Linked DNA regions of Homo sapiens: region 2 is linked to region 1. Evidence: fine-mapped expression QTL. A gene starts in region 1. The other region holds a variant in brackets. All regions are shown on one strand. Distances are between the middles of the regions.

What was found. PIP is the estimated chance that this variant, and not a neighbour inherited with it, causes the effect.
Region 2: its variant is fine-mapped to the expression of LIG1 in whole blood (TOPMed, PIP above 0.99).

The regions. Positions count from the first base shown.
Region 1 is chr19:48,167,888-48,173,256 of GRCh38, forward strand. LIG1 (DNA ligase 1) reads right to left here and starts at 2,457. Exons shown (of 28, transcript NM_000234.3): 1 at 2,354-2,457. ZSWIM9 (zinc finger SWIM-type containing 9) reads left to right here and starts at 2,793. Exons shown (of 4, transcript NM_199341.4): 1 at 2,793-2,827; 2 at 3,907-4,190. The coding sequence starts at 3,916. RefSeq lists silencers at 1,896-1,965, 1,996-2,045, 2,846-2,985 and an enhancer at 1,939-2,598.
Region 2 is chr19:48,135,549-48,140,917 of GRCh38, forward strand. LIG1 (DNA ligase 1) reads right to left here. Exons shown (of 28, transcript NM_000234.3): 12 at 4,423-4,595; 13 at 1,974-2,140; 14 at 1,460-1,536; 15 at 486-577; 16 at 132-231. Among named protein-coding and RNA genes, the nearest start is that of LIG1-AS1, 7.6 kb to the right of the region's middle. The variant C/T (reference allele first, on the strand shown) is at 2,514.

The sequences.
Region 1 (5,369 bases):
TTCTCAGGGCCAGTTGGGGAGCAGGAAGTAAGCAATGCTTCAACCAAACAGTTCACACAGAAAGCAGGTTAGGGACTTAGCCACCAAAATCCTGAGGGCAAAGGAGAAAACTATTACGATCCCTCCTGAGTGCTCAACTGCCTAGGTACTTGACATTCTCAATTATACTGACTCTCCACAACAACTCTGTTACAGAAACTAAGGCACAGAGGGGTTTTCAAAGGAACTTAACCTGCATCTATAGTACGTTCCACCCCAGGTCGGCCTGCTCCACAGCTCACCTCTTAACCACCAGACTGAGTTGCAAGGGAAGGAGAAATACATAAGCGTTTACTGGGAAGCCTACTCTATGCCTGACAGGCTGATCACATTCTCAAATACCCTCAATCCTCAAGTCAGCCCTCCAAGACAGGTGAGATCATCCCCACTTTATAGATGAAGGTAATGAGGACAGAGGAACATAGCTGGGGTTCAGGCAAGGCTTCAAAACCCGGTGTGGCTGGCTCCAAAGCCCACGTTCCTTTCTCCTTACCACGGTACTCAAGGCTGGCTTCTCAACTCTGTGTACTGCTGAGTTGGGGGGAACAAACTGGTTGATGCCTCTGGAGGACCACCTGGCGTCTCTATCGGAACGGCAACCCCACTTCTGTGTATTTGGCCCACAGAGACCCTCACAGGTGGACCAAGTGAGGCACAAAGTTACCTGCTGCAGCACTAACTGTAATGAGAGAAGACTGGAAACTGGTGGAATGTCTACCCTTAGGGAACTGGTTCCCTCATTACTGGAATACCATATGGTAGAATATTGTTCAGGGTTAAAATTAAATGAATGATGGATAAAAGGTATAGGAGTTTTTTGGGGGGATGATAAAAATATCCTAAAATCGATTATGGTAATAACTGCACAACTCAGCGCATACACTGAAAACCACTGACTTGTACACTTTAAATGGGCACTTTAAATACACTGAAATACACTTTAAATACACTGAAAACCGCTGACTTGTACATTTTAAATGGGCAAAATTGTACACTTTAAATGGGCAAACTGTATAATTGTGAATTATATCTCAATAAAGCGGTTACCAAAATGAAGAGATAATGACAGGAAAAATATCAAGTAAGGATGAAACAGTACTCAGTAATAAAAAGAAACGAAGCACTGATACAAGCAACAACTTGGGTGGACCTCCAGGGCATTGTGCAGAGTAGAAAAAAGGTAACATCCTAATAATATATGATTCCATTTACATAACAATCTCCGAATGACAAAACTAGAGATGGTGAACACATTAGCGGTTGCCAGGGGCCTGGGGAGGAGTTCTTATGTGGAGAGGGAACTGTTCTATATCACAATTACGATGGGGGTTACACAAATCTATACAAGGAATCAAGCTGCACGGGCACACAGATGCACAATCACACTCACACCACACAAACTGGTGAAAACTGAACAAGGTCTGTAATCTAGTTAACAGAACTGTATTGATGTCAATTTCCTGGTTTCGATATTGGGACTACATAAGATGTCACCATTAGGGGAAGATGGATATACTCTTTTCACAACTTCCTTGAATCTATAATTATTTCAAAATAAAAAGTAAAAACAAGAGGTAAGCTCCATCCCTTTATCAAGCATACATTAGGCCAGACGTCTCCCCATTCAGATGATTCTCCATCTTTTACGAGCCCTTTACCTAGACCTGGACCTTACCACTGACCTCTCCCTGACACCACCCATCTCCCTCCAGTAGGGCCCACTCCTTCCAGGTGATGCTGCTGCCCGCGATTTACCTTCTTCTAGCCCCGCCCCCTCAGCACTTCCAGGTGGCCCCCGCCCCCTCAGCACTTCCGGTTCCCAGCCAGCCCCACCCTTGGCACCTCCCCCTTCCAGGTGGCCCCGCCCACACGCAATCTTTTCCCCGGCCCCGCCCCTTAGCTCCCTTCAGCCCCTCCCCCTCCCAGATAGCCCCGCCCCCTCGGGGGGCCTTCCGATTTCCAGCTGGCCCCGCCCACACAGTTTTCCCCCCCCCGGCCCCGCCCCTCAGTTCCATTTGGCCTCTCCCCTTTCCAGGTGAACTCGCACCTCAAGGCCTCTTCTCAGAGGACCTGTCCAACTGTCTCTGTCTCTCGTCTACCCTCTACCTGGCCCCCCTCCCTCTGGGAGACACCTCTCTGCACTCTCCGGCGGCCCGCAGCCCGCGCTCTTCCGTCTCCACCGCGCTCTCGGCAGCCTCAGCGTCCCCACGCCCACTCCTCTGCAGACACCCCGACATGGCGAAGCATAGGCCCCAAGCATTCGGCGCACCCGCCGCCCTCCGCCTCCCATCTGCTTGCGGACGGCCCCACTTGCCTTGCGTTGGTCCCGCGCGCCGCTGCCCGGGCAACACACTCAGATCCGCCAGGCGCGCCTCTGCAGTCCCAAGTTCGCGCCACGGCATTCGCGCGCAGACGTCTGCGGGCGGGGGCGGGGCAGAGCCTAGGGGCGGGACCTGGGCACCGTCCGCACCGCCGCCGTCGCGCGGAGGACACTGGGAGTCGTAGTCTCCCGAATGGGAGGAGGGCGGGAAAAGGGGTGAAGTGGGGCGAGCCCTCCCGCAGAGCACACTGGGAAAATGCCCGCGCTTTCCCTCGCCCTGGATGAGCGGGTGTGGCTGAGGGTCTGAGGAGTGACTGGCAGGGAAAGAGGAGGAATCGGTGGAAGCGCCCCCGCGAGGCACGGCGGGAAGAGAGGCGGGAGACCGCGCGGGGCATCCCGGGAGCAAGGGCCGGGCCAGGCCTGGGCGCGGGGCATTGTGGGAGGTGGACGCCGCTCCGGGGCGGGTAGGTGAGTGGGGAGGGGCGGGAAGGGTGCACATCTTGGGGAGGGGAGAGGCACAGCTAGGTGGGACGGCGGGGCTGGAAGGTGCCGCAGCGGGCGGGGAGGGGGGGAGTAGGAGGGTCGGGAGCGGGCTGGATGGGGCTGCTCGAGGGGAGACGCGCAGCTGGACGTGGGGGGAGCATCTGGGGTGAAGGAGCCCATCCGAGGACGAGGGGCCATGTCTAGAACGAAGATGCATATTGCGGGGGATGGTGGATGTAACTGGGAGGAGGGGCCCACAGCTGGACTGGGGGCCGCATCTGAGGAGGAGGGGACCACAGGTGAATACTGGTGACACTTCCGAGGAGAACTAGCCACAAGTGGGGCACACACCTGTAGGCGAAGCGTGGATAACTGCATGTGGGGAGTACATCTGGAGATGAGAGTGTCTCAGGGAAGCCCCAGCTACAGCTGCATGTGGCGAGCCATAGGGTCATAATCGGGGGAAGGGGCAACAGCTGCACGCCAGAGGCACATCTGGGGAGTGCGGAGCCACAGGTGCATGAAGCATGTGACCGGGTGAGGGGTCCGTGGCCTGGATGTGGGAGCACATCTGGAGATGGAGCGTCTTTGGAGGGGTTACAGCCAACTGTTGGCACATGGAAGGAGGAGTTCCAGATGAATACGAGAGTTAGAAGTTACTCTTGGGTGAGAGACACAGCTGGAAGGGGAGGAGGTTTTAGCTGGAATTTGAGAACACATTTGAGGAGATGTCCTTAAGGGACATCTGAGCTTAAGGGTCGTATTTTGGGAGGAGAGATTCCAACTGTACCTAAGGGTCACATCTGCGGAGGAGGAGACGAGTTGGAATTAGGAATCAAGATGACAGGCTCCAAGTGAACCAGGGATAAGGCGGTGGGAGGAGGCCAAAGATAGGATGGAGGTTGATATTTATATATTTGGAGAAAAACAGGCACGTCCGACCCCGGGCTACCCACCTCGATAGAGGCACCAGCAACCGACGGGGCAGGCCAAGAATGGAGTAGATGAGATACCCCGGGTGGGAATGGGTCTGATATCCACCTGTTCTCCCCTCCTCCACGCAGGCCCCCAGGATGGAGCGGCCGGAGCCCCCACCCGGCACGGCTGCGGGGCAGGAGGAGCAGGAGCTGCGGGAGCGGGCCTTCTTCTCGTGGGCCGAGTTCAGCCGCTTCTTCGACGCGTGGTGCCAGCAGCGGCTGGCGCTCTTCTTCGTCAAGAGCTCCATGCACCTGGCGCGCTGCCGCTGGGCCAGTGCGCCCCCGCTCTACACGCTCATCGACGTGCTCAAGTACAGCTACGTGCGGCTTGTGTGCAAGGACGTGCGTGCGCCCAGCCGGCCCGCCGTGGGGTGCGTGAACCTGAGCCGCTGTCCTGCTGGGGGGAAGGGGAGCACCGGGGGTGGGTGTGGGTGGGAGACGGGCAGAGAACACCCCACCCAGAGATGCAGAGGGGGAGAGGCCAACTGAGGCAGCCAAATACACCTTGCAGAGAGGCGGGAGTCAAGGAGGGACATGTACTGAGAGAAGAAGAGGAGCTAGAGAGACAAAGATACTCACGGAGCAAGAGATGGTGTGGGCCCGACTTACAGACTTTTTTTTTTTTTTCGAGATGGAGTCTCGCTCTGTCGCCCAGGCTTGAGTGCAGTGGTGCCATCTGCAGCCTCCACCTCCTAGGTTCAAGTGATTCTCCCGCCTCAGCCTCCCGAGTAGCTAGGACTACAGGCACCTGCCATCATGCCCGGCTAATTTTTGTGTGGTTTTTTGTTTTTGTTTTTGTTTTGTTTTGCTTTGTGTTGTTTTTTTGAGACAGAGTCTTGCTCTGTCACTCAGGCTGGAGTGCAATGGCACAATCTCGGCTCACTGCAACCTCCACCTCCCGAGTTCAAGCGTTGTTTCTCCTGCCTCAACCTCCTGAGTAGCTGGGATTACAGGCACGCGCCACCACGCCTGGCCAATTTTTGGATTTTTGTAGAGATGGGGTTTCACCATGTTGGCCAGGCTGGTCTCAAACTCATGACCTCAGGTGATCTGCCCGTCTTGCCTCCCAAAGTGCTGGGATTACAGCCGCGAGCCACTGTGCCCGGCCTGACTTACAGAATGTAATAGAGACTTCGAGAGGCAGAGCGTAAAACACACACACCCCAAGAGGAGAAAATAGTCACGGAAAATTCCAGAAACATGGAGACATGGAGGCAGAGACACCAGAGACAGCCAGGGAAACAGAAGAGCCAGGTTTTGTACACGTGACAAAGACTGGGAGACAGAGACTGGGAGACTGAACTGCAGAGAAGCCGCAGGATAAAGAAAAGGATCCATCTATTCAGTGAATAAGGGGCCAGGTCCCATGCTGTGGGCTGGGGATATTCTAGTTGGAGCGATGGAGTTGGGCAAGAGACAAAAATCCCTGCCCTTCTGGTACTTTCTGACTGGACAGAAAGATTGACGTTAAAAGAACAAGCTCACAGGTAGTTCCCTACAACTGTGCAAAGAGGGGCAGGTGAGAAATCCAGGAGAGCCAGAATCACACC
Region 2 (5,369 bases), 32 kb before region 1:
CACCCCGTGACCGGCACTCGTGATGCCTGTCCGTCACTTCACTGGCCCCACCCACTGCTCCTCTGGCTCCACCCCCACCCTGGCACTCTGCCCACAGCCCCTGGCAACTCCACCCACTGCCCAGCTCTCACCAGAACGTCTGCTTCAGGATCATGCCTTGCTCCTCCAGCCACGTCTTTCTGGCCTCTGCTGTCTTGCCCTTCCCAGCATCCACCATGGCTGGTGGGAATTCTAAGAAAAGACCCACCAGAGGCTTTGGAAGGCACCCACATCCTTGGCTACACCAGGGTGCAGTGGGTGGTTTGCTGTATGGCAAGGAATGCAGATGCCGCGGCCCAAGACGCCCCCTCCCCCCCACCCAGGAGAGAGGAGCCTGGTATGGCAGGGGCCCGCTGGGGAAGGGGCGGGCATGGGCCTCTGAAGAGGAGGGGGGAAGCCTGAGGTAACTCCAGCGAGGGATGCAGAGACGGGCCACAGGAGCTCACCTTGGCCCGGGGGCGTGAGGCTCACTGCCTGGGAGAGGGCAGCCAGCACCGACTGCTCTGCCAGCCCAAGGCGCAGCCGTCCGCTCAGGGACCTGGGGAGAGAGCAGGCCAGGGAAGGGGGCTTGTCTGCACCTCCCCAATCTTGCCTCCTCCCTTCTCTGATCTCCTCGACCTTGATGTATGTAGACCCTCTCCTCAAAAACCAGAAGAATCTTCAGAGCCTGGAAGGGACCCCAGATATCACACAGCCCCATGTGACAGATGAGGAAACTGAGCCAGGCAGTAATGATCCTGCCCACTAGCATAGACTGGGGAGGGGCACAAGTAGGTGCACCAGCACCTCCCATCTCAGCTGCCCTGAGGGGTTGGCGAGGCTTGAGGAGGATGAGTCAGGGAGAGAACTGAGCCTGGCGCCCGCCCTGGTGACTGTAATGGTCAGGACCCCAGCATGGTCCTTGCTTTGAGCCAGTGGCAGGAGACAAGTGGCTTAGTTTGCCTCCCCATGTCTCCATTTCCCCTTCTATAAACTGGAGGTGAGGGTAACAAGACCAGTCTCACAGAGTTGCTGGTAGGAACTGATGAGGTAAGGCACGGGGCACAGGGCAGGGCTCCCAAGAAATGCTCCATGATGTGAGCCCTCAATGGATTTGCTCTCACTGTCATGGCAAACAAACCCTGGCTTCCTGCTGCAGGGCCCGCGCCCAAGCCGAGGCAGACCTCACCAATCAATCACAGCATGCTTCACCCACAGGGGCCCAGGGGCCTTCTCTAGACAGCACTACCAAGGGACAGAAGCTGGCCTGTGAAAGGAAATGGTGTCCCTTCCCACTCTTTAGGGGCTGGGCCTCCTGCTCATGCTTTTCTCATCCAAGGATGGTCAGGGCATTTGTGATGATTCCAGCTGCCAGTCCCTCCCTCCTTTCACCTCCGAGCCTGCAGTCCCCCTCTGTAGCCTCACAGGCCCACACGCTTACCTAGCGATGAACCGGGCTTCTGAGTGGCGGCAGGCCACAAAGAGGCCTTTGATGATGTCTATCTTCTTGGCTGTGGACTGGAGAGTCAGGGGAAGAGCCGTCAGTGCCTGGTGAAGGCAGGGACCACACCTCCACCCCACCAGCCGTGCTGCTGCCCTGCATTTTGGAATACCTGCCCTCCTTCCCTCACCCCATCCCCATGTCCCAGCTCCCATGGCCGCCCACTCTTAGGGCAGTAAGAACGAGCTAGCTCTCCTCCTTGCCTCCCTCTCCCTTTATCCAGGAAGTATTTACTGAGTCCTGTCATGTGGCAGCCATGGCATTAGGTCTGCTAGACTCTGAAGAGGAGACTCCCCTAGGATTGGGTGCAGGAAGGAGGAGAGGAAGCTGTGCACCCCATGAGAAGGACTGATGCGACCCAGCTGATGGTCTACCCAGAAGCCTTCCTGACACACGCGTGGCCTCAGGTCCCCAAGATGTCTGGGGTCCGGGATGAGCGGCCCGCCCCACTCACAGCACTGCCAGTGAGCCTGGCGATGTCGCGGAACTTGCTGAAGACCCCGGAGGCAGTGAGCGGAGGTGGTGGCAGCATGAGCCTCTGGGTGCTGCGGCTGTTCTCGGCCACCAGCCCCACGTCGCCTTTCTCGGCTGCCTCAGCCCGGACGGACTCCAGCTGCCGACCTTCAGGGGAGAGCGCGGGTGGGGGTGTCGAGGGTGACAGTTGTGGCTGCGTGTCTCCCTTCTCTCGCGGCCTGGATGAATTTTCTCCAGCTGTGTGTGCTTGTGGCGAGTCCCTGCACCTCCCTGTGTCTAACGCTCACCCACTTGGTAGAAATGGCTTGGGGAACGTGCCCCCAGCCACGCTGGCTGTAGGAAGTCAGCAAACATGCACGTGGAGCCAGGAAAGCGGTGGATGAACGAGCATGACCACACTCAGGGGAGACATCTGGGCCGGTGTCATCAGGGCGCGGATGGGATTTAAAGCCACAGGCGGGACAAGGTCACTAGGGAAGTGAGTGTGGACAGAGCAGAGAAGGCCAAGGGACCCTTTCCT[C/T]TGGCGGGTCATGAACATCTCTGGCAGTGACCAAAGACCCTTCGGCTTGTTTTGGAGCCACCAGCTTACACACGTGGGATGTGCTCTGGCCCCACTTACTGTCCAGAGCTGGGTCCCATGGGCGCCTGGGTGTAAGAGCTGGGGAGATGGAGCCTCAAGTCACGGTGACAGCTGTGACAAGCAGCTCTCAACCTATCAGAACCAACACACCCTTGTCACCAGATACTGTGTGTCACCTCTTTTCTGGTCTGAAATAAAATGTGGAGATAACATAACCTGCCTACACCTATCGAGATAACGCCCTAACCCTAACACAGAAAAGAATGAAAGGGAAAGCAATCCGTAATGAACGAACAAGTGCGCGTTTCAGTCCACAGATGCTCAGCCGCGGCACAGAGCACATGAAGGTGGGCCTCGCGCCTGAAGCGAAACTGCCACAAATGGGAGAGCCGACAGTGTGAGCCTCACCAATGGGATGTTATCGAATCACACATCAAAGGGGACGGGATTCTCCAAAGTGGCCAACAACTCACAACAAACCCGGGACTTGGACAGCCACGGGGGCCACAAGGCGGCACGGAGAGCAGTGTGAGTGTGAACACGACCCATCAAGGGTGGAGGCATGAGACAGTGGAAGAGGCCCCAGCTGCCATGGATTGTTGGGCAGGAAAGCCAGCATCTGCAACTTCTTTTGTGAGAAAAACAGATCCTTCTTTGTCCAAGCCAATGTAGTTGGGTTTTCTGTTACCTGCAGCTCAGAGTATTCTTAACCGACCCCGTGTGTGCTGGGTCTGGTATGACGTCAGTGCTCCCGAAACACATCTTGAGTGAATGAGTGAGAAAATCTTGAGTCTCATCTCCTCTGGCTCCCATAAGCCCGTAACTCTTTCCTGATCCAAGTCAACCTTTCTCAGTCCCTCTGTCCTCTCATGAAAGCCTGAAACCCCTGCCTTCCCTAAATGTTGGTGCCCATGGCCCTAAGCCAGCTCCAGTGCTCCCAGCACATCCTCTCCCCAGGCGGATGAGAACCCACCAGTGGGTGGTCATCCCTCCTACACTGACCAGCCCGAACCCTGGGCTCTGAGCCAGACCTGGTGAGCCTCAGACCCGTTTCCAAACTTCCTGGATGGCCCTGGGGGCCCACAGATAGAGGTTGCTCATGCCTGCCCCACGCTGGGGTGATTAATGCCCCCTGCAGGTGCCTGCCCCTCACCAGGGTCCCAAGCTGCCGACGGCTTTGTCATCCATCCAGTCACCCAGGGAGATCCTGGAGGCATTCCTCCTGCCTCCTCACCCTGACATCCACTGTCTGCCAGATCTCTCCTGCCCTCTTCTCTCTTCTCTACAGCTGGGGTCCAGCTCCTCTTCCCCCTGGATGCTGCCCCTTGCCTGCTCACAATCCTTCCATGGCTCCCCAGTGTCCTCATGATAAGCACCGAGCACTCCAGGCCCTTGGCAGGCGGGCCATCCGCATCACCAGCCTTTCCACCCAGCACTGGCGGCTGGGCCCCTTCAGGCTGCTGGCCCCCCACACACCATGTTCTTTCCTCCCACTCCTTCCAATCCCTCCAGTCAAAGTCCTTTCAGACCTCTCTAAGCCCCAACCTTCCATCTCAGCCCCCAAATCCTGCTGTCTCTGCCTCCAGCATCTTTCCCCAGCCCTCCCCTTCCCTGCACCCCACACCCCCTGTCCCAGCACATGCCTGGTCCTCCCTCACCTGAACTGCTGCCCCTGTGTTCTCTCCCACACCCCTGCAAATCTGTCCCCATCAGGCTCTCCTCCCTCTCAGCCTTCTCCTCAACCCTGTTTCACAGCCTCTCTCCACCATCTCTCCGATCCACCTGACCTCTGCATTTTCTCTGGCTGAGCTCCTGTCCTTCTGGTCCCTCCAACCACAGTCCCCCTTACCTGTGGCCTGGGCCACTGCCTTGAGAAGGACACCATCACCCACGCCAAGCTCCAGGCCCTGCTGGGGTGGCCCAAGGTGGTTGAGGCTGAGGTAGAGGACAGGGAGGAGGTCTGGAGGCGACAGGGCCACCACGGAGCGCAGCAAGTTGCTCAGCGTCTCCACCATCCGGAGCCTGGAGGAGGGGACGGGGGTATGAACACGTGGTTCCTCAAGGTCAAAGTGTGGTGTCGGGGTGGGGTGGGTTTAAGGGGGTGGACACTAGAAAGAAATGGAGAAAGAAGAGGAAAGGGCTCAGAACAGTCCCAGGCTCTGGGGCCTGGAGCCATGAGGACAATCACAGATTGCTGGAGGTGAAACCGCCTTTGCAAAACCGTAACTGAGGAAATTATGACAGTGGAAAGAAATCACACCTAACCGATTCCATCTTGCTTCTAACCTTTAAGCTGTCCTTGTTCAGTCCTGGGCATAGGCAGAACTAACTTTGGGAAGGAATTTGGTTCGTGGCTTGACTCTGAAACGAAATTGGTAATAGCCCTTTCTGGAAAAGACCCCTTTTTGCCTAAGGACCTGCCTTCGCAAGACTCACAAATTAGCTACAAGATTAGAAATTTAGGTTTAGGGGTCACGCAGCCTCTGGCTTCCCCGATTGCTCCTGGGGATAACATCACTACTGTAAAACCTAAGATGAGTGCTTAAGATAGTTTGCAGACCCTGCACTCAGTCTGACGCCACCCAGACTGTAATCTGGCTCAACAAGTTCTGCCATCCCACCCAGGAACAGAAGACAGCAAGAAAACCTCCCTTCGACCCCCTGTGAGTCCATCTTCAACCTGACCAATCAGCACTCCCCACTTACCAAGCCCCTACACGCCAAATTATCTTTAAAAACTCTGCTCCCCACATGCTCAGGGAGACTGATTTGAGTAAAAATGAAACTCCGGTCTCC